3 linked regions of the Homo sapiens genome follow. The protein of the gene in region 1 purifies or fractionates together with the protein of each later gene. This does not show direct contact. Each region holds a gene or a part of one and is shown on either strand. Other genes may lie near its edges.

Region 1 (10,781 bases):
GAACTGCACAAAAACTGATCTGATATAGAAGTGAATGAATCAGCCTTACTGTCCAAAAAAGTGGCACTACATTAGACAAAGATACATGCATAACTTAAACAGTATTACTCAGAAGAAGTGTGTGTGTGTGTGTGTGTGTGTGTGTGTGTGTGTTTGGGGACCGGAGTCTCACTCTGCTGCCCAGGCTGGAGTACAGTGGTACAATCTCGGCTCACTGCAAGCTCCGCCTCCTGGGTTCAAGTGATTCTCCTGCCTCAGCCTCCCGAGTAGCTGGGATAACAGGTACACCCCACGACACCCGGATATTTTTTGTATTTTAAGTAGAGGCAGGGTTTCACCATGCTGGCCAGGCTGGTCTTGAACTCCTGACCTCAAGTGATCCGCCCGCCTCAGCCTCCCAAAGTGCTAGGATGACAGGCATGAGCCATCGTGCCTGGCCAAGAATTATGTTTTGAAGAATATTTGACAACATGGAAAAACAGTTATGATATATCAGAAGAAAACTTAGTTATAGCAACTGTTATTTGCAGTAGGATCCACTGGATTCTCTGGGGAGTAAAGGTAATGTGTTTTTTTTTTCCTTATATTATCTAAATTTAATATAATGTGTTCACAAAAAGAAAATCATTGCTTTATTAATTTTTTTTCATTTACCCACACTACACAGATGTAAAGTTTTTTTTTAAATATTAATATTACCTTGAATATGAAAACAGATAAATCACAGGTCACATAAATCCTGGAAGTACTTGAAAATAACATGAAATTCAGCTGTGAATTTTCCAATACTGGCAGCACTCTTTTTTCTCAACTTCCTTTCTTTTCCGTCTGTTAACTAATAACAAGCTTATTTTTCTTACCTTTGAAAAGTCCTTTGATACCTCCCATCTTTTTTACCATCTGTGCAAACTTGGTATATTGTGTCAAAAGTTCTTGAACATCTCTTGTTGATACACCCGATCCTCTTGCTACTCTTTGGATTCTTCCTGGTTGTTTACTAAAAACTTTGGCACCATCCGTACTGTCTAGTTCTGTAGACAAGGTCAGTTACTCTCACACACAATTATCATTCACCATCAAAGCAGTTATGTGCAAATGGGCAATATATAACTTCAAAGAGCTTAGCAGATGTTTTTAAAGTGATAACTATCTCATTTTTCTTTTTATATTACAAAATATCTTACATACAGAAAAACAGACATAATACATAGTCAAACTACCACCCAGATTTAACAAATGTTAACATTCGCTATGTTTGCTTTTGAGTTTTAAAAATTAAACATGGAGGCCAGGCGTGGTGGCTCATGCCTGTAATCACAACACTTTGTGAGGCCGAGGCAGGCAGCTCATGAGGTCAGGAGTTCGACACCAGCCTGGCCAATATGGTGAAACCCTGTCTTTACTAATAATACAAAAATTAGCTGGGCATGGTGGCATGTGCCTGTAGTCCCAGCTACTCGGGAGGCTGAGGCAGAAGAATCGCTTGAACCTGGGAGGCAGAGGTTGCAGTGAGCCAAGATTGCGCCATTGCACTCCAGCCTGGGCGACAGAGCGAGACTCCATCTCAAAAAAAAAAAGAAAATACGGAATATATTCAAAAGAACATTTATAGTATTCATAAGCTATAAAAACAATGAAACAAACATGTACTTTCCCTACAGTTTAAGTAAACTATTAATAGAATGTTTCGAGACCCCATGTCCAACATTTCCATACTTCATATGTCTACCCTCTCCAGGCCCTCCAAACATCAGAGGTATATGGTATATTTAAAAAATGAACACAAATGCTCACTTTAGCTCTACCCTAAATATTAATCATAAATTCATAATGTAGACTATATAAGCAAGCAGAAAGAGGTACGTTCTATCCATAATCAACAGAAAAATTATTTCCTATAATCAAGTAATTACTACTACTAGTATTTTAATTCTCTCAGTAGCATATAGTGAATTAATTCCCGCAGTTGTTTGATCACTCTTAGAATATCAGGTGCATTTCTTCTAGCTTCAGTTGCATGCAATCTCAGGAATGGGATGGACTTTAGTCAAAATGTCCATTATGTCTGCATTCCCTCTGCAATATCCCCCAAATAAATGGTTATCTAGCCTTGGTCTTAATATCCCCAGGAGAGATGACCTGCTATCTAATGTAAGGCTGTCTATGCCATTCTGTTATACTTAGGGAAAAATCTTTTCTTTACACATATTAAATTGAAATCCATTTACGTGGCACTTCCATTCCTATTCATGTATATGTCTCCTTGCTACGCATAAAAAATAAGGCTTTCAAAATCTTTTTTTTTTTTGAGACAGAGTGTTGCTCTGTCCCTCAGGCTGGAGTGCAGTGGTGCAAGCTTCGCTCACTGCAACCACCACCTCCAGGGTTCAAGCGATTCTCCCACCTCAGGCTCCTGAGTAGCTGGAACTATAGGCACACGCCACCACAGCCAGCTAATTTTTTTTGTACTTTTAGTAAAGACAGGGTTTCACCATGTTGCCCAGGCTGGTCTCGAACTCCTGACCTCAAGTGATCCACCGACCTCAGCCTCCCAAAATGCTGGGATTACAGTTGAGAGCCACCGCACCTGGCCAGCTTTCAAATGCATAAGAGCTACCATGTCTCCTGTGAATTTTCGCTGGATGACAAATATCCACCTCTGACTCTTCTAACATGGTTTAGAACCCCATTTATCATCCTGATTTCCTACATCTTTTAATTTGTCTATACATACCCTCTAAGTATATTGTCCAGAAGTGAACTGAAATCCAGGTGAAGTCTAATTATCAATGCAATACTAACAAAGATACAATATCTCAAAATAAAGTCACGATCAAAACCTCCAAATCCATTTCATAAATGCAGCTTTTAAGCCACATCTTCCTTATAAAAGATTTATGAAACATATATATTATATTCCTTCCAACAGCTCAAATCAAATGAAAGAAGATAAACTAATAGCAGCACATCGTGGCAAGTAATACGACAGAGTTAAGCAAATAGAGGAAGGGGCGTTAATTCAAAGAAGGAAGGAAGTCAGGAAAGGTTCTATACTGGGCAAATTACTCAACTTCCCTGTATCCCAGTTTCCTAATTTGAAAAAGGCAGATAATAACTGAATATGCCATAGGAGTTGTTATGATGATAAAATGAATTAATATATTTAAAGTGCTCAGGACAGTGCCTGGCACAGAATGGATACTTTAGATATGCTGCAATTATGAATTCTACATGCAAACATTTTTGCAGTGTTAAAGACAGTGAGGAAAAAAAACAACCTTAAAAGAAAAAGACAGTCTTATTTGGGCTACTATGAAAACCTGGAGCTCAGGAAAAAGAGACTACAAAAAAATAACAATAAATCAGATAGTAGATAAAGCACAGATATGAAAAATTGTTCAAATTGTTAGAATATTACATAAACTTAGTTGATAAAGCAGCAGCAGCAGGGTTTGACAGAACTGACTCCAATTTTGGAAGACGTTCTACTGTGGGTAAAATGCTATCGAACAGCATCGAATACTACAGAGAAATCTTTTGTGAAAAGAAGAGTCAATCAATGGGGCAAATTTCATTCTTGTGTTTTAAGAAATTGTCACAGCCACCTTGACCTTTGGCAACCATCACTGTAATCAGTTAGCAGTCATCAACATCAAGCTAAGGCCCTCCACCAGCAAAAAGATTATAATGCACTGAAGGCTTAGATGATCATTAGCATTTTTAGCAATAAACTATATTTTTTTATTTTTTTCTTTTGAGACAGAGTCTCACTCTGTCGCCCAGGCTGGAGTGCAATGACACAATCTCGGCTCACTGCAACCTCCGCCTCCCGGGTTCAAGCGATTCTCCTGCCTCAGCCTCCCAAGTAGCTGGGATTACAGGTGTGTGCCACCACGCCCGGCTAATTTTTTTGTATTTTTAGTAGAAACGGGGTTTTACCATGTTAGCCAGGCTGGTGTCAAACTCCTGACCTCAGGTGATCCGCCCGCCTCAGCCTCCCAAAGTGCTGGGATTACAGGCGTCGTGAGCCACTGCGCCCGGCCAACAATCAACTATTTTTAAATTAAGGTATATACATTGTTTTTTAGATATAATGCTCTTGCACACTTAATAGACTACAGTATATGTATTTGTAAACATAACTTTTATATACACTGGAAAACCAAAACAATCTGTATGACTGACTTTATTGCATGATATTTCCTTTACTGCAGTGGTCTAGAACCAAACCCACAGTATCTCTGAGGCATGCCTTTATAGGGTCAGGGGAACAGAGCAGTATACTGAGAAAACTGAATTCTTATGTTTCAGACAGAAAGAATTTTCTAAGCATTGCTTAAGCTATCCATTTCTTAGTTTCCCAATGTATGTTAGCAATATTAAAGCTCCGTGAAGAGACTTTCAGTAAATAATTTTTTTTCATAGAGGCAGGGTCTTGCTACGTTTGGCCAGGTTGGTCTTAAACTCCTGGCCTCAAGTAATCTTCCCACCTTGGCCTGCCAAAGTGCTAGGATTACAGGTGTGAGCCACCTCACCCAGCCAAATTTAACTCTTTAAAAACTAGCATTCCACCACATTTGACTCAGAGTTCTCCTTTTAAGTTAACTCTATGAACATCATGAAGAACTAGTGTTCTTTCCTTGTAACTCATTTGGAGAAGTATTATACTAGACATTTCTCTCAACGATGAAGGCAATCCAATAATCATAACCCTTTGAGTAAGAGCTTTCAAGCTATTACAAATCTACCTAAAAATAATCTTTCAGGCTAAATTTCTCCCCATCTTGTCCACAAGAATACAGTGAAACTCTCATCTTACTGATACTCAGAACATTTTTGCCTGAGGAAAATAATCTGCCATCTTACCTTGATCATTCATACTATCCATTATTGTCATTAATTTCTTTAGCCTTGCCATTGACTCCTGTTCATTTCCTTTGCTCATAAAATCTGTCCCAAAACCAGGGATCATCCCCTACAACAGATTTAAACATAAAGTCAATAGTAGCTTAAGATTAATGGTTCAAAATGTCCACATTTAACTATTAGGTTTAATATTGACACTAAGTCTTAGATATATTTTTACCCGAATGTAAAAATAATTAAAGCAAGTGTATCTATTTTAGAAAATTTAATGAAAACAAAAGAAGGTATAAAGTTTTAAGGATAACTAACCAAGATCTGACTGAAGGGGCCCATTTTCATGATATTTTGAAATTGCTCATACATGTCTCGCAACGTAAACTGACCTGAAATACAATGTAAATAATTCGGATATATTAAAGTATGTACATTTCCATTCAACAAAACTAATTTATTCCTTAATCATGAATTCATCTTGAAGCATATTTATAAAATATACATCAATAAATATTCACCAAGCAGTTACCATGTGCAAGATGACAGGATGAATGCTGGGGAGAATACATAGACAAAGACAGGTCCTATCATAGAGAAGCTTACATTCTATCTGAGAAGACACATATACAAACACACAAGAAACCTGAAAACAAGGCACATAAACTACACCTACTAGGATGAGTAAAATTTTAAAGGTTGACAATATCAAAAGTTAAAGTGGATGTGGACCACAAAGAACTCCCATATATTGGTGAGAATATAGAATAGCAAGACACTTTAGAAGATTGTTTGGAGTTTCTTAAATAGCTTAGGTATCTATGAACAGGAAAATGGATACACTGTGGAAAAAATATTATTCAGCAATAAAAAGAACAAACTATAGATAAGTACAACTACATGAATTAATATCAAAATATGCTTAGTCAAAGAAAACAGATTGGAAGAAAAACGATATACTCAGAATTTCTTTATTTTTTTAAGAGGGTTGTGCTCTATCACTGAGACTGGATTGAAGTGGTACAGTCATCACACACTGGTAGCCTCAAACTCTTGAGCTCAAGTGACCGCCTGCCTCAGTCTCCAGAGTAGTTATGACTATGGATGCATGCCACTGGATTTTTCTAAGAGATATGGGTCTCACTACATTGCCCAGGCTGGTCTCAAACTCCTGACCTCAAATGATCCTCCCACCTTGGCCTCCTAAAGCACTAGGATTACAGTGTGAGCCACCATGCACAGCCCAGGACTTCTATAATATGAAGTATTACCGGGAAAGGGCACAAGCAAACCTTTTAGAGTAATGGAAATGTTCTGTTTCTTGATTGGGTGTGGGTTACTGTGCATTTGTCAAAAAAAGAAAGGTATCCTTAGGATTTGAGCATTTCATTGTATGTATACTAACCTAAGGTTTAAAAACAGGGATGGAACAAGCCAAAAGAGAAAGTATTTTCTATTTATGTCCTAAAGATAAAAAGAGAAAAGGTATTTGGTTCAGGCATTCTGAATGTGAAGTGGCAGTACAGTATCTTAAAAGAAATGTTATAGCAGTCAACTAGAAACGCAGAATTAAACAGTGGAAGAGAGGATTAAGGTTGAAATACATATTTGGCCATTTATACAGAAGTGATAATTAAAGCTAGAATAATATAAGAAATCCACAGACATAGAACTTAGAGTCTGAAAACAGAAAAGGCAGAAAACACTTAAATATTAGGAACCAAGGAAAACAAGAAAGGTCACTACATGTGGAAATTAGGAGACCCTTGGAGATCTCAGAATGAGTAGAATATTAGAAATAGAAACAAAAATGTAGAGACTTAAGGAGAGTCAGGAGTCAGAAAGGAAACAGAGTAGGAATATACACCCAGCTTCATAGTGGTAGCAGAAACAGTGGTAGGATTATCCAAGATAGAAAAAGGAAGGAGCGGCCAGGCAAGGTGGCTCATGCCTGTAATCTCAGCACTTTGGGAGGCCGAGGCAGGCAGATCACCTGAGGCCAGGAGTTCGAGATCAGCCTGGCCACCATGGTGAAACCCCATTTCTACTAAAAATGCAAAAATTAGCCGGGCGTGGCAGTGCATGCCTGTAGTCCCAGCTAATGGGGAGGCTGAGGCAGGAGAACTGCTTCAAACTGGGAGGCGGAGGTTGCACTGAGCTGAGATTGTGCCAATGCACTCCAGCCTGGGCAACAAGAGTGAAACTCTGTCTCAAAAAAAGAAGAAAAAAAAAAAAAAAGAAAAGAAAAAAAAGGGGCAAAGAGACAGGCAACAAAGGATAAATTCATTCATTCAATAGTTGCTGAAGGCCTACTATGTGCCAGACACTGTGCTAGGTACTGTGAACATAAAAAATGAGTAACCCAGCTATGACCTCTACCTTCACCTTCAAGCAGGAAAAACAGACATCAAATAATTGTGCTGAATAATATAAAAATTAATTGTAGGAAGTGATAGAAACATCTGTCAGAAGGTTCCAACTCAGTCTAGGGTTCAGGTGAAATGTCCCTGAAGAAGGACATTTAAGGAGAAATCTGAAGTGCAAGTAGCAGTTAGCCATCTTGGCCAGAGGAGATGATGGCAGAGGTAAGAAGAGAGATAGAGGGACTGGCAAAGGCAACAGCCCAGATGTGAGAGACAGGAATGTACATTTGAGAAACTAAAAGAAGTCCAGCATAGCTGGCACACAGAATACTAAGAACAACAATGCTAAAACACAACATGGAAGATGTGAGCTAGACAGTAAAATCAGTTAAAAACTTTAAAAGGGCAAGAGAAAGCCACTAAAGAATTTTAAGAAAAGCAGTAATGGGATCAGATTTGCAGTTTTGAAAGATTATTCTGGGCTGTAGTATGAAAAAATACATCAAAGGGGAAGAGTACAGGAAGATGGAAGATCTGTTGAAAGACTTACAATAAGAAGATCTAGGAAAGAGATGAACTAGCATAGTTGAAGGGCAGCTACAGAGAAGGGGATGGAATGGAGATATTTAGGAGGTGGAAACACTTGGACTAGTTAACTGATGGAGAAAGGAGTGGGCAGAGTGAGGAAGAAATAATAATGACACCCAAGTTTCTGACTCTGGCAACAATATAAATGATATTAATATTCATTGATAAGACAACGAGGTGAGAGGTTGGGATGGGAATAAGGATATGCTGAATTTGAGATGTCTATGAAACATCCAAGAATGGTCTAGTAAACACAGATACATGAGTCTGAAGCTCCTGAGAAAGATAACTTCGAATGATCCCTGAGAAACACCAGCATTTAAGAGAAAAGTAAAGGCACAATTATCTGGTAAGATGAGTGAGAAGAAGCAAAGAGGCAGAATAGTTGCTACGGTAATTAAAGATTATTTTTAGAACAACTGGAATGGTTGAGAATAATATACATTGAGTGTTTATGATGTGCCAGACATTGTACATGCATCAGCGAATGCAATCTTCACAACCATATGAAGTAGTTAGTATTATGTACGTTTTATAGATGACAAAATTGAGGCTAAGTAATTTAAAAAGTTATAAAGCTAAAAAATAGATCAGAGATACAAAAACAGGTATGTTATATTTAAGAACCTGAGCTCCTAATCAGAATAATATCCTTCTCTACAGGAGTGGTCTTTCATGTGGGGTAAAGAAAATGTGGTATATTTAATTTCATCCTTGTGTTCTAACTTACTTTTAACCTGTTTAACTTCAAGGAACCGGCCAAGCACAGTGGTTCACACCTGTAATCTCAGCACTTTGGGAGGCTGAGGTGGGTGGATCACCTGAGGTCAGCAGTTCAAGACCAGCCTGGCCAACATGGCAAAACCCATCTCTACTAAAAATACAAAAATTAGCCGGGCCTGGTGGTACGTGCCCGTAATCCCAGCTACTCAGGAGGCTGAGGCAGGAGAATCACTTGAACCCAGGAGGTGGAGTTTGCGGTGAGCCAAGATTGCACCACTGCACTCCAGCCTGGGTAACAGAGTGAGACTCTGTCTTAAAAAACAGAAAAACTTCAAGGAACCTAGTGAAAGCCTTATTTTAATCTTAATTTTATTACAATAAAGAAAATAAAAACACTGAATTCTGTAACTGCTCAGGTACCTGAGATTTTAAATGATTTGCATATAAATCATCTAAAATAATAAGCAGTGGAAGATCTGACTCTAACAGATATTACATTTCAAATAACTTAATAGTAACTTTATAAAAAAAATCAATGGAAGAAATCTGAGATGAAGTGCTTTTTTGTCACTCATATACCATGTTTCAACTTCTCTATAAGTGCTTCATTGTCATCCAACTTCAACTCGTTGACTTTATCTATCAGTCCTTCAATGTCGCCCATACCTATAAGATACAAAAAAGAAAAATTAACAACTAATACTATACCCTGCTTCACATTATACAAAACACATTCACATACATAATAACCTTGTGAGGTTATAATAGGTTAGGTATTCTTACTACACTACACAAATGAGAAAACCAAAGCTAAGAAAGTTAAGTGGCATGGCCAGGAGCGGTGGCTCATGCCTGTAATCCCAGCACTTTGGGAGGCCAAGGTGGGTGGATCACCTGAGGTCAGGAGTTTGAGACTAGCCTGGCCAACATGGTGAAACCCCGTCTCTACTAAAAATAAAAAAAAATTAGCTGGACCTGGTGGTGCACGCCTGTAATCCCAGCTACCTGGGAGGCTAAGGCAGGAAAATCGCTTGAACCCGGGAGGCTGAAGGTGCAGTGAACTGAGATCCCGCCATTGCACTCCAGCCTGGGTGACAAGAGCGAAACTCCGTCTCAAAAAAAAAAAAAAAAAAAGTTAAGTGGCAACAAACAAGTGGCAAAGCAAGGACTGCAGCCCAGGGTTTAACTCCAAATTCCATGCTCTCTAACTATACCACCTTGAGACATTGCCAAAGTATTACTGCCCTTACATCCACTATTATTAAAACCACTTGTTTTTGTACTGTGCTCTAAAACTTTTCCAAAGAACTTTCTACTAGATACCTCATTTTACCACTTTCACCACAGAGGGCAGATAACCATTATCTCTATTTTACAGGTAAGGAAACTAAGTCACAGAAAGAAATGATGTGCTTAAATTAGTGAGGACAGAATTAAAATCCTATTTTGTCCTAAAGATACATCGTATTTCTTGGAGATTTTTCTATATCCCCACCACTGTACATACCAAGAAGTTTGCTAATAAAAGGCTGTGTTTTGAAAGGTTCAAAGTCATCTATATGTTCCCCTGTACCAATGAAAATAATCGGACTTTTTGTGGCAGCGACTCTGGAAAAAAAAAGAAAATATAAAATAACCTCAAAAGAACCCCACAAATTTCCAGCAGATCTGAAATTCGAAGTGAATCCGCCTCCAAAGCTAATTAGACAAAGGTACAAAACTCAAGTTTCATTTCACAAGTTATAATAGACCTATATCAGACAGGCTCCAAAATTGTTTCTATTTAAACTTTCTTTATAAACCATATTAGGCTCACTATTGAAACATATTTTAAATGATCAATATGAAAGCTATAAACACATATCCTTCCCCATATAATCCCAAGACAGAGGACAACAGTATCAATGATACTTACGCACTGAGTGCACCACCTCCTTTTGCATGGCCATCAAGTTTTGTCACTATTACTGAGGCTACATCTACTTTATCTTTAAAAGCCTTAGCCTGGGCTTCACAAGCCTGCCCAATGGAGGCATCCATCACATAAACAATGTTATCAGGTTGCTAGAAAGTTTAAATAGAAAAGATACTTTAGAAAAGATTTTTATTGATCCTAAGCAAATGTCATCATTAGAAGCTATAAAACAATATTTAGAGCCAGGTGCAGTGGCTCATGCCTGTAATCCCAGCACTTTGGGAGGCCGAGCCAGGTGGATCACCTGAGATAGTTCAAGACCAGCCTGGCCAACA
Region 2 (10,781 bases), on another chromosome or scaffold:
ACAGCAGAAACCCTGAAGAGGACAGGCTTTATACTTGACCTTATACTAGAGCAGTTACTATGTGAATTTACTCAGTGATTATTGCCTTACACTAGGTGCTGCCTGCTTATAAATTCATCTGATCTTCACAATAACCCCATGAGGTAGGCATTACTATTACTCCTGTTTTATAAACAAGAAAATTGAGCCAACACTGAGTGAAGCGCTTCGAAAGTGACAGGATTCCAACCTAGTCAGCCTGGTTCCAGAGCCTGCGCCCTGCACTACTTGTTATACTACATGCATCCTGCCTGGGAAGGGACAGCAGTCAGTGACTGGAGTCTGTTTACATCATACTCGATACCTTCATGCCTCTTCCCAAAACAGACAACAACTCGGGTTTTTGTTTTTTTGTTTTTTTTTGAGACGGAGTCTCACTCTGTCACCAGGCTGGAGTGCAGTAGCATGATCTCAGCTCACTGCAACCTCCACCTCCCGGGTTCAAGCAATTCTCCTGCCTCAGCCTCCCGAGTAGCTGGGACAACAGGCGCCCGCTACCATGTCCAGCTAATTTTTGTATTTTTAGTGGAGCCAGGGTTTCACCATGTTAGCCAGGATGGTCTCGATCTCCTGACCTCGTGATCCACCCGTCGGCCTCCCAAAATGCTGGGATTACCGACGTGAGCAACCACGCCTGGCCAAAAACCCCTTTTAAACACAAAATTTAGTGTGTACAGAGAAGATATAACTACTCTAAATGGAATGGAAAATGGTGATACAAATGTATCAGCATTCCATTTAGAAAAGCAGTTATACCTTCCTATACTCACCTCCTCCATTTTAAACAAATACAGCTTTACCATTAAATCAAAATGTATTTTCCAAGTGCTGGTTTCTCAACATCCATGCCTTCTGGTACAATAATATTCCTCCAAAGTACATAATAAAATAGAACACTTGCTGGAGAAAATGCTAGGGCTGTCTTGCTTTGCTACTCACTCTAAGACAATATGGAAGCCATCTCCACTGCTTAAGTAGATAGTGAAATTAAATGCAAATAATTAGTATAAAAAGATACCCAATTATACATAATCAACAAAAATTTATGGTAATTTCAAAGCAGTTACTGCTTTTGCAAGGAGCTGTATTTTGTCATCTGATCTTTATGCAAAATTTAGCAGAAGGACTTCCCCCAACAGAGAAAGTTCAAGTGGAAGGCAGGCTCCAGGGCTCGCTGATTTTGCCACTAGAATCTTGTATCCTGTGTTGCCCACAACTGAGAAGTAGCTACAAGCCGTTAAGTTAGAATATGGCCATTTAAAGTAAAGTAACTGTTGGCTGCCCCCCAAAAGCACCAAGCTTTTTTTAATTGATGCATCTGCCATCCTACTTGATAAACCTAGATCAGAAAGCCAAACCTGCTGTTATTATGTCCTTTGATAATTAGAAACCAGATTGGTCATTTGTTTTTTTAGCCTGAAGGCAATTCAAGGCTCAGAAGAGAAACAAGTTTCTTTTTATTCTCTTAAAGAAAAACACACACACCACAACCACCAATATGGTATATCTCTGTATATTACAGTTCACAATTTGAAAAGTCTTTGAAAAACATACCCCTACCCTATAAAAGGAAGGGGAGAAAGAGGAGGCCTGCTCAAGTTTTACTGCCCTCACTGATCCCTTAGAGGAATGACAGAACTGCAAAACATTAAAATTAGCAAGATGTGGAAGGGTTTGGTTTGTTTGTTTTTTTAAAGCTTTCAAATGCAAGCTATTACTGCATATCCCTGATATGAGATTAGGCATGATTGTCAGGCAGGCTGTGACACCCAGATGGTGATTTAACTGGCCCGTTCTTCGACAGCCTTTTGCCTCACTGACAGAACGGTCACACGACTATTACATGCTTCTGGGTGTGTGCGCGTCTCCTCTCAGATCGTCAAAATCCTGCTCTCCTACCCCCACCTTTAGGAATATGGCAGCTAGCTTTACTTACCGAGAACCCGCTACTGTGCTTCCCAACAGTGTATCTTACCTCATGCAGTCCTGTGAGACAGGGGCTTCTCCCACAATTTACAGGCTTGCAAACTGAAGCTTGGAGGTTTGATTAAGTAACTTTCCCAGTATAAAAACTGCTATCTGAGGGGACTGGGATTCAAATCCAAGTTTGTCTCAAAAATCAAAGCTGTTGCCCTTACCAGCCCACTTCAGTAAACCCTAAAAGCAGATAAAGAGCACAAACTCCCAGGGGGTTGGGCCTATACAAACCTCAAGTCTCTCATTTTAACTCTGAACAGTCCTGTAAAATGTCTACTCCATAGTATTTAATATAAAAATGTTTAAAATTGCTGACCAACACGCTAACTTACCCTTCCTTGGGCAAAATCATGGGTAAAAACTGATGGGCCAAGAAAAGACACCCCACTAACCTGTGACTCTGCCCATTCACCAGCCTACTGTTTCGCACTCTGGAGTTGCATCAGGTCCCTCAGCAGGCTCAGAGAGCTGAGATGCCTCCTGTAATGTTGGAATCTAGTTGTCAGTGGTCCCTGGCTAAAAGAGTAACAGGAAGGCAACTGAGCCTAAGCTTTAATCCCTAACTTCCTGTGACTGTGTGACTAGGGTAAGTCACTTGTTGCCTCAGGTTTCTCCAGCAGATGGGGCATAGGGGTAAATCATACTCCTCATGGAGCTCTCATTAGGATGCACTAAGAACACAGGCAGTAAAATGTTAGATGAGACAGGACAAAAACACTTACAAAAACTGAGGTGTGGATAGAAAATTTCTTCCTCCCAAGTCCATTGGGTATCTGAACATTAGGAAAAAATAAAGATGTCCAACCAGATTTCCAATAAGCTCATTGATTACCCTGCAAAGAGAGCCAAATGAGTTTAAAGACATTCAAGCAATAGAGATGCACCAAGTTTTAACTAATAGCATAAGGAAGAGAGCCTTCAAGGCAGCCCATTTAGTCCCTGGGAGTCTGTGAGAGCTGACAATGAGCACTTTTGTAGTCTGAGTGGCAAATGCATTCTGAGGGAGACGGGAAATCAGTCCTGCTGAACCAATGAGGCCTGCCACTCTTCAAGGCCAGCAGCCCCTCTGACCTCTCTTTCAAGCACCAGCCCATCCTCAAAATATTGTTTTTGCTACTTCCTGCCTCAAGAGTTGGGGAAGTTGCAAAGCATGCTTCTGAATGCTTTCAGTCATGAATATTGTATTTATAAAATGTGGGCAAACATGAAGGCTACCAAGAGAGAAGCGTGGGAGTAAGGAAAAGAGGAACAATAAATGCCTGTTCCCCCTTTCCTGGAGCCATTAAGCACTTCTCCCTTGCCTCTTGTATCCTTGAGTGTAAGACACCACAGAGATCACTTAGGAAAGCCGACTTGCACCCTGAAATCAACGCTGACCTTCTTCAGTTTTCCCTTGGCTTACATACAGGTCACCTCAAGAGTGTATAGATCTACTGTTACTATTACAAATCCTCTTTGTCTTCACCTGCAACATGATTCCCGTCAGGGGCAAATCAACACCTGCAACTACTTCAGACTTCACCTTCCTGGGTGGAAGAGCAGCTTTGCCAAGTTCAGAACATGCTTTGCTCTAAACAGTCTGCTCCATCCATTCACTTCTCCCCAGCAATATGCAGAAGAAGTTAGGATCACACAGAGCAAATATGTCAGACACATGAAGAACCAGCAATATAAAAATGGATTGAAATATTAAAAGTAGTTTGTAGTATAAGAAATGGGAGTTCTGGCTGGGTGCAGTGGCTCATGCCTGCAATCCCAGCACTTTGGGAGGCCAAGGTGAGCGGATCATTTGAGGTCAGAAGTTTGAGACCAGCCTGGGCAACACAGCGAAACCTCATCTCTACAAAAAATACAAAAATTAGCTGGGTGTGGTGGTGCACACCTGTAATCCCATCTACTCGGGAAGCTGAGGCATGAGAATTGCTTGAACCTGGGAAGCAGAGGTTGCAGTGAGCCAAGATCACGCCACTGCACTCCAACCTCGGTGACAGAGCCAGACCCCATCTTGAAAAAATAAATAAGTAAATAAATAAACAGAAAAAATGAAGAAATGGGAGTTCTTAGAGAAGTTGCATCTTGGTATCCTCCCTTTAAAATTCTGACTGGATAAATTAAAGCTATTCCTATGTCTAGCTCTAATTCCTGACCAATAGACTAGATATTTGACCCTGGTTGGCCAAAAGTTCTGTATTATCATCCAGGCATGGTGGCTCATGCCTGAAATCCCAGCACTTTAGGAGGCCAAGGCAGGCAGATCATTTGAGGTCAGGAGTTTGAGACCAGCCTGGCAAACATGGCAAAACCCCATCTCTACTAAAAATCCCAAAAAAAAAAAAAAAAAAAAATAGCCGGGCATGGAGGCGGGCGCCTGTAATCCCAGCTACTCGGGAGGCTGAGGTAGGAGAATTGCTTGAACCCATGAGGCAGAGGTTACAATGAGCCAAGATCGCACCATTGCACTCCAGCCTGGGCAACAAAAGTGAAACTTCGTCTCAAAAAAAAAAAAAAAAAAGTTCTGTATCATCAAACCACTTGCAAAATTATATCCTATCTAAGAATCTGGATTTCTATGACCGATAGGCAGTTTCCAAGGCATTCTGGAAATGCCTTAAGAATATAAGACATAGTAATTTTATACATAGCTCTTAGAGGAGCCAACTCAGACAAAAATTAGGTCTCTGTTTGCCCAATCAGAATAGTGAATCCAGAAATACATATTTATTCCTGTACTATACACATAGGAACATACTGTGTGTAACAATAAGTTAACAAAATCACAACCATTCAAGGTTAAATATGCTTAAAGCCCTGCAATCTAATCAATTCAATCGAAGTGAAATTATTCCATAAATATAGGGTTCTAATGCGTCAATGTTGAGATTCTTTAAAGTTGTATAAAGGTTAGAGAAAGATAAAAACTAATGGAAATTTTCCAAGGATTAGTTTCCAATTAAATAAATCTAATATCACTTACGAGCCTCCGATGATATAGTTGAATCCAAGGATAACCCAGGGTAAATAGCAGGCCTAGGATGGAATGAATATATGCAAATGTGAGTAGCCACACCTGACGAGGACACAGCTACTACGGGGACTAAAGTGGGTAAGGATACACTGACAAGGGCTTTATATAAATCCTCTGGAAGGTCACTGCAAAATTTCTAGGATCAATCTAGCATTATTCCCACTATACTTAAACCTTCCTATCTAAAACTAGACTTAATTGTGTATTTGTAACTGGAAGGACACAGTACTTTGCCCACAGGTCTGATGCAATACAGGCCCTGCTGAACTGCTATAAACAGACAGCTTCAAAAAGCAGATGAGTGTCCTACAGATGCTACTAAAAGCAAGGCCCATGAGAGAATCACACTAAGATTCCAGCCAACAAATTGCTACAAATAAAATAAACATACCCCATCTTTTTAGGTTCTTCTTTTACATATCTTGCAAAATTCCTCTGAATTTTTATCTCATTATGCATTGATATCTTAAACTAATACTCTCCCAAATAAGAAAGCTCTCCAGATGAACTCAACATTTGAGCCCCTTACCAAATCCAAGACATCATACCAAGAGCTAAAGGAGTTGCAAGAAACTTCACAAACTAGGAAAGAGAGGGTTATACTCAAATAACTTTACAGCTACATGTGCTAAGTACTAAAGAGAAACACAAAGTATTGAAAAAGCCCAAACGTAAGACTAATTCTAGGCAGGAGATTCAGGAAATATGTTCAGTTCCAACTCAAATTAAGAATGGGTAGGATTTATACAAAGAAGAGAATCAAGATGTTACAGGTGGAAAATTGTGAAAGAATGTACAAAGAGAAGTGTTTGGGGGCAAAAACAATCTGTTTCAGCTACAGTATAAAGCAAATAACAGGGAACGAGGGAGGGATAAGAACAGATTTTTAAAGCAGGGTTTCACATGAGTTATCTCTCCTTCTCTCTAACACAGACACATAAGATCACTCAGGGACATAACCTTGAGGGGCCCGAGGTACAGAGGGAGTGAAGAAACAAAGGCCAGCAACGGACTCCAGGCTGGCTAATTAAATAGAGCTGGGATTGAGGAGGGCAGAAAGGGGCTTGCCTATGGTACACTGCTCTGCAGTGACCCCTTCTGGATGAGTCAGAAAGTACATCTCTGGACTGAAGAGGGATTTCTGCAGACAAATGAAAAGGACACTTTTCCAACCAAGGCAAAGTACCTTAAATCGTGTTCCAAACCAAAATGATACAATCATGTCTCTGTTCAGCTGGGCCCAGACATAAAGTACTGACATGATCAGAGGAATCATCAGCAACTGCAAAAGAAGTCGACATGTAAAAACCAGGCTCCAGAGGCACTTAAAAAAGGTGTACATCTACTATGCTTTTTACCCCTCCTCTTCACAACAATCCTCACCTGGGTAAAGGGAAACTCAACTGATCAGAATTATAAATTGATCCTATTATTTATCATACAATAAATATTACAAAATCCTATAATAAAATACAACAAAACTATATTATTTTAGATGGATTCAGAAATGTAAGAGTCAAGCTCTGTTATTTACAAAAAGTAAGCAACAAAGCATTACCATATAATCTCAATTTTTAAAAAACATCCATATACATGCCTAGAAAATACTAGACAACCACTGTTGTCACATGCCTAGAAAATACTAGACAACCATTATTGTCAATGTTCAAACACCAAAAAGAGGCCAGAAATGAGCAAGGAAAGCAATGATTTAGATAGCTCATGTAAGATCTTCAAAGATTTAGCTGACTTAAGATCCTCAAAATAAAACAGCTATAGGCCAGGCACGGTGGCTCATGCCTGTAATCCCAGCACTTTGGGAGGCCGAGGCAGGCGGATCATGAGGTCAGGAGTTCAAGACCAGCCTGGTGACATGGTGAAACCCCATCTCTACTAAAAATACAAAAATTAGCCGGGTGTGGTGGCGTGCATCTATAATCCCAGCTACACGGGAAGCTGAGGCAGGAAAATCACTTGAACCCGGGAGGCGGAGGTTGCAGTGAGCCAAGATCAAGCCACTGCACTCCAGCCTGAGCAACACAGCAAGACTCCATCTCATAAATAAATAAATAAATAAAACAGCTGTAATTCCATAATTTCAAAATACCACATAATTAACCCCATAGTTAATGCAATTTCAACTTCTGACAAAGGCCACTAATAGTATATTTGAAACAAATAAAAGGGCAAATAGATAGTTTAAATGGACACTTACCTGCATATCCATTGCTAAGCCAGTAATCTTGGTTTGTAAAGTTAAAGATCAGACATAAAAAAGCATTCTGTACCTAGTCAAGACTGATGTGGTTATTTTCCTCCCATTTAAAAGTTCACTTGGCCAGGTGTAATTTGGCTCATGCTTGTAATCTCTGTACTTTGGAAGGCCAAGATGGGAGGACTGCTTGAGGCCAGGAGCTCCAGACCAGCCTGGGCAACATAGCAAGACCCCATCTCTAATTTATATACATATTTTTTTAATTAAAAAAATTTTTAAGTTAATTCCAGTGTTCTGAAGGAAAATACTTTTCTATAGTTCAGATTGCTTAAAACATTCTACAACACAAAGGTATCTAATCTTCATTATGCATATTCCATTAGACGATACCATGACAAGGACATAGTAGAAATCAACAGCTTCCGCATATGACTTAGTCTGGTCATCTGGCATCCTTTTTCTCTGCTATTGCATTTTAACATCTCTCCTTCAAATAAAGGATGAAGATGCCTGTAGCCTTTGAAGGAAATAATCATTCTACTTACATTCTCAGGACTCTATAGCATGGTTAAAGTCCAAAATATTTTTTCCTTCCCTCAAAGGAGGGGGGAAAGGGCATCCACAGTGCCACATTTTCTGGCCCTCAGCCAAGTTTAAATGGCAGCTGAGCCCAAAGGCAATTTTGAGCTCACCAATTTTGCACAGGACCTGAGACATCGAGAGCTGCTGCTGCTCTCACCATCTGTAAGAGTCCTGCAGTTGGAGGGCTGCTGACAACTGCTATTGATACAAAGCAGAGAAACGTACTGTGTCCCTTCCCAGAGCTGGGTACTTCACAGAGGGACTGAATTACTATGTAGGACCCCAAGAGAAGGACAGCAATGAAGTCAGAAAAGGATGCTGGTTGTAAATTAATTTTCTGATAAGGACCACAGATTTCAAAAGCTGTCTCATGGCACGGACTCTCTTTGTGCCTCAGTCAACAAGCTGTCACACATGAGAACACAGAGAACTGGGAACAAGAAGAGGGAACAGTCATAAAACTACTCAACCAAAGGTGGAAAAAAATCCCACAAATGGTAAGAGAATGCATCACTCAAGGGCTATATGATTTACTACAGTTTTTTTTAAAAAACTATAATTATTCTTATTAACGGTAGTCAACCAAGATGCAAATATTGTAATTTGAAACGTTTACAGAATATGGTCTATTTCCCCAAACCTGGAAAAAAACTGGTTTATTTCTGGCCCAAAATCACAGACTGAAGGATACCACGATGCAAATCCAGTTAAAGAGGAGCATGAATAAATAGTCTGCTGGCCTCCCATCAAAAGCTCCTGGAAACAAAAACAAGCCAAATGTCATGGTTCAGAATTTCACAACAAAGTAACATCTACATAGAGAAACACTTCAAAAAGTTACAGAAAAAGCCAAAATGAGAACATTTTAAAAACCACTCCTCTCTAAAAAAGTGAATTTTTAAAAATATCTAAACAACGTCCCCAATAAAGCCCTGAATCAAAGTTACCTGAGTAAGGTTAATCTATGCTCTCCTAACTGAATTCCAGTAAGTGACATGCTCTGACTACCACAGGCTAAAACAGACCCAGAGAAAGTACAGTCAATTCCACAGCTTCTGAGCCCTGTATCCCAAAGACCAGTGAGGCCCCCCAAGCTCCCTCCCAGCCTGTCAGCCTTTCCTTCTTGGCTCTCGCCATGACCTGATGGCCGCATTCTGGATTACATGCTTGATCCCTGTCCTCCTCCACTAGACCGTTAAGTTCTGTCAGAGGAGGAACCATGCCTGTTTTGTCTCCATTGTGTCTCCTCCAGCATGGCTATGCTGGGAGGTACTTACCATTATTATTAGAAACACACATACACACACACAACCACCTGTACCACACTGGCCTTAGATACTGAAAAAGAAAGTCTCTGTCTTCCAGAGACGTACATTCTACCAAGGGAAAACAATGTGGGGGAAGGAGGGAATAAAGCGTCAGCCAAACCTTTCCATAGCCTCTGACTCAGTCCTCATACTGCATCTGGAAGGGAGAATGGAAAGACCTACGACCTGCTTCTTACAGATGCAGAGTTAAAGTCACATGACCAAAGTCACAGAGCTTGTTAGAACCAGAGTGACATCAAATTACTAGCACAGTGCTCCTGTCACTGCGCCATATGCCTTATTGGGCAGAATAATCAACAACGGCCTCCCGTGTAAGCATAATTCCTAATGCCTTCAGTTAGAAGACTTTAACAGAAGAAAAAAAAAAAAAGAAACAGAAATGACTGTAAGATCACTCTAGCTTGAAAGTTACTTTCCCTCCCCGTTCCACACCCCCTCACAGTTACATGATACAGCTAGTCAATTTAAAAAAAGAAACCCAACAAGTGTCAGTAAGGCAAAAAGATATAATTAAAAGAAAATAGGTTTCCAGCAAAAGTGTCTTCTACTCTCCTTTATTTCTCCCTTGATACCTCAAAGCACACTTCAGCCACAGTGTTAAGCAGGCCTAATGCTAGAGGATCACAATGATGAATCACAGCTGAAATTCTAACACAATTTCCCGATTTTAATAATAGCTGTGCTTCTTTTGATGTGGCTTTGGCTGTCTGATTCCTAAGGAGTCTTTAGACTGAGTACTTAAAATATTGTAATCATATAAATTACAGCACTATATTATCTGACATGCTTGCAACTGAGAATTTACAAATTAACTGGTTTCAAATTACAGTCTTCCAGTTCAAATCAGAAACCTCAAATAAGCCAACTCTGCTATATAACTAACAATTTAGCCAGGCAGGAAAATGTGCAGGTGGCAAACATTTTGTCAAGATGTTAACTTAAAGCTGTGTGGTTGACAGAAAACTGGGGATCAGTGAACCTGGGTTCCAGTCCTAACTGCGTTAACTCAAAGAGCTCTGCAACTTTTGGGACACGTCACCACCACTCTAGATCACTGTTTTCTTATCTATGAAATAAGAGTGTTAAATAGAATGATCTCAAAAGTTCCTCTCTACACGTTCATAGCAGCTATTATTCACAATGGCCAAAAAATGAAACCAAGTCAAATGTCTATCAACTGATGACTGAATAAACAAAATGAGGTATATCCATACGATGGAATCTTAATGGTAATAAAATGGAATGAAGTACTGATACAGGCTATATGGAAGAATCTTGAAAACATTATGCTACGTAAAAGACATAAGTCACAAAAGGCAACAAGATACTGTATGATTTTAAGAAATGCCCAGAACACGCAAATCTAAAGAGTCAATAAGATCAGTGGTTTTGGTCAGGTACAGTGGCTCACGCCTGTAGTACCAGCACTTTGGGAGGCTGAGGTGGGCGAATCACTTGAGGTCAGGAGTTTGAGACCAGCCTGACCAACATGGTGAAAACCTGTCTACTAAAAATACAAAAATTAGCCAGATGTGGTGGTGCGTGCCTGTAGTCCCAGCTACTCAGGAGGCTGAGGCATGAGAATTGCTTGAACTCGAGATGCAGAGGTTGCAAA
Region 3 (10,941 bases), on another chromosome or scaffold:
AGCAGATTCAGACTAAAATATTCAGCAAAATCAGGTCTTTATCACGAAGGTAGAACATAACGCATTATTACATAAAAGCAGAATTCTGCCTTGAAGTCTCCACCAACAACTTTTCCAAAAACCAGAATAACTCCTATACTGAAGTTCCATGTTACACAATACTTTATGTTCAATATTCTACAGATTGCCAAGGCATTTAGATATTAGCATATTCCTATAAGACATCTCCCAAGAACACTTCCACGAACATTATTTTTTTTCAGTGATGGATTCAAGCACAGTGTATCGCAGTTTTTCCCTAACCAGTATCAGTAACTCTTGTTTAGCTAGCTGTTTTAAAAACTGCTAAGTATCGGCCAGGCGCGGTGGCTCACGCCTGTAATCTCAGCACTTTGGGAGGCCAAGGCGGGTGGATCATAAAGTCAGGAGATTGAGACCATCCTGGCTAACACGGTGAAACCCCGTCTCTACTAAAAAATACAAAAAATTAGCCGGGCGTGGTGATGAGTGCCTGCAGTCCCAGCTAATCGGGAGGCTGAGGCAAGAGAATGGTGTGAACCAGGGAGGTGGAGCTTGCAGTGAGCCGAGATCGCACCATTGCACTCCAGCCTGGGGACAGAGCGAGACTCCATTTCAAAAAAAATAAATAAATAAAATAAAATAAAATAAAAACTGCTACTTATCTACAAGCCAGAACAGAAACATAATTTTAAAATGGTTACAATCTAGCACCAGAGGCCTCAAGACAATTCTGGAAACTAAATAAAAAGGGCTAATGGAACTGCAACCTACAGCTTTCCCCATTACGGTCTTTGCATTCCTGAGACTGAAAAAAAAAAGTTACATCACTATATGCGATTTGTCTGAGTGAAGGAGGAAAGGGAACTCATCAAGCATTTAAGCAGGTATAAATAGTAGTAACTAGGTTAATTATCTTTAGAATACCTGATTCTATTTATTTATCTAGTAAATTCAGTTTTACACATTTTAAAAATTCAGTTCTCTAGAAACGAAACACTTAAAAATATACTAAGCATGACAACTATGTGAAGTTTTAACTCTCAGTTAAAGGAACACTCACTGGTTTCATTTAGGAGAAATGAGAGTTAAAAGGCCAATCATGGCTGGGTGCAGTGGCTCATGCCTATAATCCCAGCACTTTGGGAGGGCAGGAGTTCACTCACGAGGTCAGGAGTTCGAGACCAGTCTGGCCAACATGGTGAAACCCCGTCTCTACTAAAAATACAAAAATTAGCTGGGCATGGTGGTGGGTGTCTGTAATCCCAGCTACTCGGGAGGCTGAGGCAGGAGAATCGCTTGAACTCGGGAGGCGGAGGTTGCAGTGAGCTGAGATTGCACCACTGCACTCCAGCCTGGACAACAAAAGCAAAACTCTGTCTCAAAAAAAAAAAAAAAAAAAAAGAAAAAGAAAAGAAAAAAGGCCAATCGTGTTTATAAAAGGGTCCATTTGGTAATTTAGAGGGTGCCAAGTCACCATGTCAGATGCCATAAAGAAAGAAAAATCAAGGTTCTTTACCAAAAATAACCAAAACACAAGGACAGAATGAATTAAGTCCTATAAAGGGATATACAGATAAAATGCTAAAGAGAGAAAACAAGTAACTTAGACTGGGAAAAAGGAAAGTCTAAAAAAGGAGGTGGCTTTGAAATGCTTTTTTTGTTTTAACCTTATAGAAGAAGGCAGAAGAAAGGCTAAAAATCATTCTGAACAAGGATACAATCCGGTAGCTTCATGAGACTAGAGCTGAAGATCATGAAAATGGTGAGACAAAGCCAGAAAGACTGGAGATGGGTCAGACTGTGACTGGGAGTTGGGACTATATCCAGTTATCAAAGAGCCAGTTTTTAAGCAGGAGATGAAGAATTCAACTTTTGTTTTTTAGACAGTTGTGGCAAGAGTGTTAAGGAACTAAAAAGGCTGACAGACCAACAAAGAGGTTATTACATAATCCAGTGGTAATGCCATCTTCAATTACAGCAATACAAGACAGAGTGGTAAAAAGATACTGGGTATAATCAACAGGTTAAATGTGTTGCGGAGAGAAGACAGAGAATTTTGGAAAACAGATTCCAGAGACCTGACAAAATTTGTTCTTTAGCCCTAGCAGAAAGAGAATGGACTTGGGGTTCAAAGATCTGGGTCCAAATTTCATCTTAATCTCTCAAGAAACTAGGTATATCACTTAACAGATATAAAATCATTCATTTATATACTTTGATGGGTTGCTGTAATTGTTCATATATTATGTATAAATCTATGTAAACACACATAAATATATATTAAATGCCTGTAACATATAAACATATGTAAAATGCCTGTCACGTAGAGGCGGAGGTTGCAGTGAGCCAAGATGGCGCCACTGCCCTCCAGCCTGGGCAACAAGAACAAAACTCCATCTTGGAAAACAAACAAACAAAAAAAACTGTTAAGCTCTTCCTCTACACTCATCCTCTCCCCTCTCAACATATCAGTCAAGCCAGGCGCCATGGCTTGTGTCTGTAATCCCAGCTACTTGGGAAGCTGAGGCAGGAGAATCACCTGAGGCAAGGATTTAAGACCAACCTGGGCAACAAAGCAAGAGCCCCGTCTTTAAAAAAAAAAAAAAAAAAAAAAAAAATTAGGCAGGCATGGTGGCATGTCTGTAGTCTCAGCTACTCAGGAGGCTGAGGTGGGAGGATCACTCGAGCCCAGTTCAATGGTGCAGCGAACTGTGATTTGTGCCACTGCACTCCAGCCTGTGCCAACTGCAATTTTCTGACTGGGTAAGAGGTGAAATATTCTCTTTCTTGTCTATTCTAGACATGCTTTGCTCACAGTGATGCTCTAATTATTTTCATTTTCCCTACCACTGCCATCACATTCTTACAGTACAGTTACTCTTGATGTGAATTTATATATTCTTTACTGTTGTCTCAAGTATTTTTAGTTTATACTGTGGGTACTTCTGGATAAAAGTCCTGTGTGGTCTCAGAGTAGCATTGTCTGAATGAAGAAACAAATGACCCTGCCAACAAGGGAAGCTAACCAAATGAAGCAACCAGAAGTCACCAGTGTTATAAACAAATTACTCAATTTAAAAAATACAATTTCCATCATTTATTATTGTATCATTTTATTGTAAAAAATAGAAGTATGTTTTACAGCTTGTTACTTAGCTAGGTCTTTCTGTGGGTCTAATACTATTTTTAATCATAATTATCAACATTTCTTGCTGCACACTTTAAACTTATATGCACTATAAACTGTATGTGGCATTGGAGTTACAGGTTACCAGCTCACTGCATACACTTAAAACATAATTCATATTACTTAATGATCATCAATAGTTTCACACAGTAAATCCTGAGCCCTGGGCTGGGCGCAGTGGCTCACACCTGTAATCCCAACACTTTGGGAGGCCAACGCGGGTGGATCACGAGGTCAGGAGTTCCAGACCAGCCTGGCCAAGATGGTGAAACCCCGCCTCTATTAAAAATACAAAAAATTAGCCAGGTGTGGTGGCAGGCGCCTGTAAACCTAGCTACTCGGGAAGCTGAGGCAGGAGAACCGTTTGAACCCAGGAAGTGGAGGTTGCAGCGAGCTGAGATTGAGCCATTGCACTCCAGTCCGGGCGACAGTGCGAGATTTCGTCTCAAAAAAAATAAAACTATTGAAAAAAAAAAAAAAAGATCCTGAGCCCCGGTTTTCCGAGATTTTATCTGCTTTTAATTTTCTTTCTTCTCCGAGGGATACAGTCACAATACACTGGATCTATAATACCCTCCAATAATACCAGCTCCTTAAGGGTTGAACGGAATCTCATTCACCTTTGTGTCTCCCACAGAACCTAATTTAACTTGGGGTCAGTAACACGAGAGTGGGAAATGAATGCAGCATAAAAGAGATAACTGAGTTACAACAAACACAAAACAAAAGAAGCATCATACATAACCAGGTCTGAGGTTTTCAGTATAAAATCCCTTCAATATGCTGAGTTCTAAAAAGAAGCAGAACTTTTAATTAACACGAAGATGCTTCAAATAATTCTTAGACATGACAATAAAATAACCAAAACCTCAAGAGACGAAAAGTAAGACCCGAATGCTAAACTCCCATCACTTGGACTCCTTTGCTTTTTAATAATGAGCTAACCTCTGACATCCACCTCCATTATAATTTTTGTGGGGGCTAAGAATGTATTTCAGAGGTCCATGAATCCCTTAAAATTGTTTGCAAACATTTACTTATACATTTACTTATACCATTTTTCTGAGGAAAGGTGCAAATATTATTCTTATGGTCCCAAAGCCTGTGACTCCCAAAATACTAAGAACCAATATTCTGGGGGGTACAGATGCTTCCAAATTGGAATCTTTCAAGAATGTCTGAGCGGTAGTAGAAAAAACATCATCAGTTTTATATACATGAGGTACCCTTACCGCCTAGGCGGTACAGGAAAAGTGAACCAAGACAAAGGACAGGAAGCTGCAGGGGGAGGAGCCCTGGCTTCAGGGACTCGTAAAACAACCGAAGCCATAAAGGAAGCTGAGGGACTGGGGCGGGAAGATCGATTGCAGAAATGTTTAGGGCTGAGATGAACCTGGCTGTTGCCAGCTTCAGGGCCTCACTGGGCCGCTAGATCAGGGAAGAAGGGGACGAGAGAGCAGAACATTAACTTGGCAGGGTCCATTTGTGTTCATTCCCAGCACCTCCTGGGAGCGCTGGGGAAGCTCCAGGGGCCGAGTGGATGGCGGGAAGACATCCTGGGCTGGGGCCCAAAGCAGCGGCCCCGCCAGCGATTTACCTTCATAGGGTCAGCGAGGTAAAGCTTCTCGGCAGCGCGGCTGAACTCCTCCCAGGTCTGGTACTGCGGCATCGTGGCCTAGAGTGGAAAAGTAAAGAGAAGCAAGGCCTCAGAACCCGGCCCAACAAACTACCTACGTCCGGGAGTCGCCAACCGACGCGAGTCCCAGCAGCCCCAAGATGGCGGCGCCTCCTCGCACCAACGCCTCGCTCCATTGGACAGCCCCGTCCATGCTCGCCCAATGGGCAGGAGGGATGTTGTCAGGGAGTGGGCGGAGCCCAGGGCGTGTGGCTCGAGAGCTGAGCGAGACAAGCGGAGGGCACGGCAACCAATGCCGGCTGCCACAGCGCCCCCGGTAGGGCTGAATGAGTGGCGTCCGTCCCGTGGCCCTCAGGGCTGAACCGCAGCTGCCTTCAACAAAGATTAAGCGGCTCTGCGATAGTCGCTGCATATACGAGGAAGGAGGCGACAGGGCCCAGCTGTCACACAGCTTGGTGAAGAAGCCAGGAGACATAAACACAAGAGTGCAACGGAAAACTTTATATGATAAACATTTATGTCGGGTTAGTGGAGCGCGAAGGAAGAAGGATCTCTTGTGGGTGGGGGGAGACTCACAGAAGCGGTGCAAGCTCAACAGGTAGGCAAGGAAGGGCAGAACACGTAGGCCCATTTTAGATCTGCAGTGTATGTCAGATGACTGGTGTTTAGGAGATGAGGAAGAAGCCATATTATCACTTCTGCAAGGATAAAAAATCTGATCCTCCAAGCAGGAGGATCGCTTGAGCCCGGGAGTCCGAGGCTGCAGTGAGCCATGATCGCGCTACGCACCCAGCCTGGGCTTCAGAGGAAGACGCTGGCGCAAAAGTAAATAAATAAAGAAGATGGCCTGCAGGGGACACCAGGTAAAGGGTATTATATTTTGAGATGGAAAGATTTTGTGCATGTTTATAACTTTTAGAGAAGGACACATAAGAGATAGAAAAATAAAAAATACAAGAGAAAGAAGAAAGCGAGGTCTCGGGAAATATGAAGGGGAAGACCAAAGGCCCAGATGAATAAAAACAGGTGCATTATTGCCTTTGATGGGGTGAGGAGGAGGGAAAAGTCGGGTGAGGGTATAGGTGAGCATGTAGATACGAGGGCAAGAAGGTACATTTTCTTGTCACCTAAGACAGGAGACCACCTTCGTAAATAGGAAGGGTGGTTTTGGATCTTTGAGGAAGCAAGGATGGGTTTGGATCCTTGAGGAGAAGGTTTGGAAAAGCCATTGTGAGAAATGAATAAGGAAGCCTATTAGAAAAAAACAGGTGGGAAGCGGTGGTGCACACCTGCAATCCCAGCACTCTGGGAGGCTGAGGTGGGCAGATCACTTGAAGTCAGGAGTTCAAGACCACCCTGGTCAACATCGTGAAACCCCATCTCTACTAAAAATAAAAAAATTAGTTGGGCTTGGTCGTGGGTGCCTGTAATCCCAGCTACTCTACTCGGGAGGCTGAGGTAGGAGAATCTCTTGAACCCAGGAGATGGAGGATGTAGTGAGCCAAGATCGCATATCACTGCACTCCAGCCTGGGCAACAGAGCAAGACTCTGTCTCTAAAACAACAACAACAACAACAACAAAAAAAGAAACTCAAAAGCAATATGTCAAGTAGAGTAAAAAGCTGAAACTGGAGATCATATCTGGGAATAGCCCCAATTAGGGTCTGTCTCCAGCAACACCCAGAAGCTTGGATTTTGGACTGGAAAAGACAGATATTAGGGATTTATAGGGTACATGAGGAAGAAGAACAAAGGGTCAAGAATGTTGTAGGTGGTACTGGCAAGAGAATGATTGAAATGATAAATTATGGGATCCATGCTAGATAGCTGGTAATTAATTGAGTCAAAAGAGAGAAGTTAAGGAACCAGGATTAAAGGAAATCTGAATTCAATATAGCAGGAAATAAGTTTTAGTCAGATTGGATATTGGGGTTTAACATTTTAGAGTAGCAATAGTCCCTGGTGAGGCTGGATTTATAGTTGGGTTGTCCACACAAAGTCAAAGTCTTCTATGAGTAAGAAAAGGAATAAGATGAAGGAGAAGGCTATGAGCCAGGGACCCAAATCCTCATTTAATGAGACACGTGTGTGTGTGTGTGTGTGTGTGTGTGTGTGTTGAGGGAAGCTATAAAGAGCAATGAGCAGAGGCAGAGAGGGCAGAGTTGGGCAGAATGACCCCCAGGTGTAGGGGTTTTTCCCTGAAGATGAAAACAATGGAAGTTAAGACAATGCCAACTTTGCCTTCTGTCACAAGGAACATAAGAGATCAGTTTCAATTCAATTCAGCAAAAAGTAAAACAAGTGTCCACCCTGGACAAACACCAGGAGCTGGGCTAGGCATTAGAGACCCAGCAGTGAACAAGACAGGCCCAGTCCCTGCCTCATAGAGCTCACAGTTATGGAGAGAATGACAGTAAAGAACAGATCTCCATTGTGAGGGTCCCCATCACTGTGAGTTCCAGCATCTCCAAGCTTAGCCCAGCCTCAGCCCCTACAGAGGCAGAGAAATCAAGATAAGGAAGAAGTTATGGGAATTGCCCTTGATTATGCAAATGTCCCCAGTCACACTAGGATGCATTCTTTTTTTAAAAATTTAATTTTAGGTTCGGGGGTACATGTGCATGTTTGTTACATGGGTATATTGCATACTGGTGGGCATTAGGTTTCTAGTGTACCCATCACCCAAATAGTGAGCATTGTACCCAATTGGTACCTTTTTAACCCTTTCCATCTTCCCACCCTCCCCCTTTTGGAGTCACCAGTGTCCATTATTTCCATCTTTATGTTGATGTGTACCCGTATTCGTCCATTCTCATACTGTTATAAAGAACTACCTGAGACTGGGTAATTTATGAAGAAAAGAGGTTTAATTGAACTCACAGTTCTGCAGGCTGTACAGGAGGCATGACTGGGGAGGCCTCAGGAAACTTAACAATCCTGGCAGAAGGGCCAAATCAAGTGCTTGGAAGCCAGCACTTCTTCACGTGGCAGCAGGAGAGAGAGAGAGAGAAGGGGGAAGTGCTACACAATTTTAAACAACTAGATCTTGTGAGAACTCACTCACTATCACAAGAACAGCAAGGGGGAAATCCACCCCCATGATCCAATCACCTCCCACCAGGTCCCTCCCCCAACACTGGGAATTAGAGTTCAACATGAGATTTGGGTGGGGACACAGAGCCAAGCCACATGAGTGCCCATTGTTTAGCTCCCACTTATAAGTGAGAGCATGCTGTATCTGGTTTTCTGTTTCTACGTTCGTTGACAGGATAATGGCCTTCAGCTCTATCCATGTTGCTACAAAGGACATGATTTCATTCTTTTTTTTTTTTTATGGCTGCTGGATGCATCCTTTAAACTAGGTTATTCCTTTCCTGCTGTGGCTTCTGAAAGGCTATCAGAGAGTGTCCTTTATAAATTGCTCACACATGCACAATGTCAGAAAAGGAAAAATTCCTTTCATTCCCAGTCAAGAAGATCAGGGCCTCTGTACCCTTTGTGGTTATCCTTTCTGCTTCATTTTCACACACATATCTTATTTGAGCTTTCAAACAACTCTGCCAGGGTGGTCAGTGAGCCTTATTACAATTCCAAAAATCTGAAAAGCTCTGGAAAACAAAAGTATCTTGGTAACTCCATTAGTAGAAAATGACCTGACCTCAAGTAAGGTTGCTTAGTCTTTATTTGTTTCACTTGGTGTGTTTGGTTCCAGGGTGGGGCACAGACCCTGCTGGTGGTATTATGTAATATACCACATGTGCACTGTATCACCTTTCTAGGATCCAAAAGGCTGTGAATTCTGAAATACGGGTGGCCTCAAGGATTTCGGACAAGGGATTATAGTCCTGTGCCACTCTCCTTTACAGGTGATGAAGAAACCAAACCTGAAAAATAAGTGACACTAAACAGATTGGCCCCAGACTTTGCTCCGGATTGTCCAGCAAATGGCAAAAGCCAGTGGATGTTAATCATAACCGGAAGTGACAGGATTAATTTTGATTTTTAGAAAGTGTAACTAGTAGAAATACAGAAGCTAGATCGGTAAAGCAGAGCCTGGGTGCAGGGTCAAAACCAAAAGCCCTTGCACTTTTCCTTATGTTCACCACCTCCCGCGATTGTGTTCATGTCTTTGCCTCCCATTCCTGATCCCATTTCTGATCCCATTTCCCATCCCATTTCCACTGTATCTACCCTCTCACCCCAAAGTTGCTTTCATGGGTTCACCAGCTGACTATTATATTACCCACTCCAGCAGACATCTCTCAATCCTTTGTGACTAGATTATTCAGCTGTATTTGAGGCCACTGGCCACCCTCTAATCCCGAAAACTTCCCAGACCCCTGGCTTTTTTGGCCCCATTCTTTCTCGCTCCTCTCTGACTTCTGCTCTGGCTCTGTCCTGACCTCCTCTGCCTCCCCTGGTTCTTCAGGATTGGGATCCCAAGACACCAGCCTCTGGTTTTCACCTTCTCTAGTTCTTCCTGGACAATACCCTTTGAGTTTTAACCCCAACCTCCATGCTATGAGGCTCCTGGATTCCTACTTCGTCCAGGCTTCTTCCCTGAGCTTCAGATTCATATATCCCACTGCCTACCAGGTCCACAGCTAACCCCAGAGTTGAATTGTGGAAGGTGAAAACAATTTCTCACCAAATCAAAATTTCTAAGCTGTAAATGTGATGTCTCTTTAAAAAAAAACAACCTATTTTATTATTACTGTTGGCAAATTATTAGTAACATGCATATTCAACCACCAGAATTCAGTTAACTGTGTATGGCAGACCTTTTATAGGCCAGTCATTGTGCTGGGCAAGGCAATTTACAAGCTAGTGAGGTCAGGGGCAGAGATAATAAGGCAAGTTCACAAATGCCAATAGCTGAAGCTGGAGAGCGCGTCAAAGCGAGGGAGGGAGCAGTCTAATCCCTGAGGCTTGGCAGTACCTGTGTTCACTTCCCCTCCCTTTACATCCTGTTCTGTATCTTCCCAAAGGTCTGCGGAGGCATGCAAGAGGAGGAAAGTTTGGTGGTTGTTAAGATAAAGAGGAGTGACTGTTTTTGAACTCTTTCTTTTGCTTAAGTTTTGGTGCCTCTTTGTTTTCCTCAGTTGTCTTCTAAAAACAATCAGCACTGTAGCTGCTTTAGACTAAGAACATATATAGGTCCTTAAATGGATTCTTATATTAATAATCATAGTACTAGTCCGAAGTGCTGCTGGCTTGCCAGGAATGTGTGTCATGTTTATTTTCACTTATTAAATATTTATTGACCCCGCTATATGCCAGGAGTGAAAGAAGACATTGTTCCTCTTGTACTTCCCAAGTTTCATGGATTCAATGCAAGGCAGACAGGGTAAAACAAACCTGGTAAGAGAAGCCAACCAAGAAACCGGTTTGCCCAGGAGGTTGTGTCCCAGATAGGGAGGGAAGGAAACCTGAGGGAGTCCTGACACCAACGTGGGTCTGGGGCAGCTTTGATTCAGTGTCCAGTGGAGGGCAGTGGTGTGCAGACAGTCACACAGAGACAGCCATCCCGGAGGGCTGACTCCAGCCTTTCTGGAAGGAAATGGTCGCCCATTCAGTACATCAGTACATACACCCAGCTTAGCTGAAATCATGTTGGTGGACTTGTTTACCTTTTGCTCAATCTCAACACTTCCTTTCACAAGGGCTCTCATTTGATTACCAGGAATCTCCAATCCAGTTTAATTTATTAATTCCTTACTGAGCACCTAATCCGGGCCTGTCACCCTACCAGGGGTGCTACAATGACTACAAAGATATGCACAAGAAGCTTACAAGTAATGAAAGCAGGGGAGGGTGCAGGGATTAGGCAAGTTTACAAATAATCAAAACTGAAGGCAGAAATAAGCATGGATGAAGCACCTACCATAACAGGGCACAGTACACTGGGGTTTCAGAGAGGCCTGACCATTTCCTACCCTCATAGCTGTTTGGGGAAATCAGGAAGTAAACCAATTACAAGATAGAACAATATAAAGTGTCACTGTATGAAATGCCGAAAAATGTTCTTCCTTGTGTATGTGTGGGAGCAGCCCAGAGCTGACCCCTAGGGACCCACATTCAGCACTCCCTAGGGGA

Evidence for each region.
Region 2: the proteins of SRP54 (region 1) and DERL1 purify together in Homo sapiens (affinity purification with western blotting; 2 studies listed by BioGRID). This does not show direct contact.
Region 3: the proteins of SRP54 (region 1) and SRP9 purify together in Homo sapiens (co-immunoprecipitation; 5 studies listed by BioGRID and IntAct, with this or other methods). This does not show direct contact.

The regions. Positions count from the first base shown.
Region 1 is NC_000014.9:35,013,160-35,023,940, reverse strand, and holds part of SRP54 (signal recognition particle subunit SRP54), read right to left. Parts: intron 10,596-10,781; coding exon 10,447-10,595; intron 10,140-10,446; coding exon 10,039-10,139; intron 9,198-10,038; coding exon 9,111-9,197; intron 5,250-9,110; coding exon 5,176-5,249; intron 4,976-5,175; coding exon 4,867-4,975; intron 1,032-4,866; coding exon 861-1,031; intron 1-860. UniProt on the Homo sapiens protein: Component of the signal recognition particle (SRP) complex, a ribonucleoprotein complex that mediates the cotranslational targeting of secretory and membrane proteins to the endoplasmic reticulum (ER).
Region 2 is NC_000008.11:123,016,457-123,027,237, forward strand, and holds part of DERL1 (derlin-1), read right to left. Parts: intron 9,317-10,781; exon of another isoform or gene 9,267-9,316; intron 8,595-9,266; coding exon 8,530-8,594; intron 7,284-8,529; coding exon 7,257-7,283; intron 6,324-7,256; coding exon 6,228-6,323; intron 5,044-6,227; coding exon 4,991-5,043; intron 2,850-4,990; coding exon 2,739-2,849; intron 1-2,738. UniProt on the Homo sapiens protein: Functional component of endoplasmic reticulum-associated degradation (ERAD) for misfolded lumenal proteins. Forms homotetramers which encircle a large channel traversing the endoplasmic reticulum (ER) membrane.
Region 3 is NC_000001.11:225,771,877-225,782,817, reverse strand, and holds the start of SRP9 (signal recognition particle 9 kDa protein), read right to left. Parts: upstream 4,993-10,941; 5' UTR 4,878-4,992; coding exon 4,806-4,877; intron 1-4,805. UniProt on the Homo sapiens protein: Component of the signal recognition particle (SRP) complex, a ribonucleoprotein complex that mediates the cotranslational targeting of secretory and membrane proteins to the endoplasmic reticulum (ER).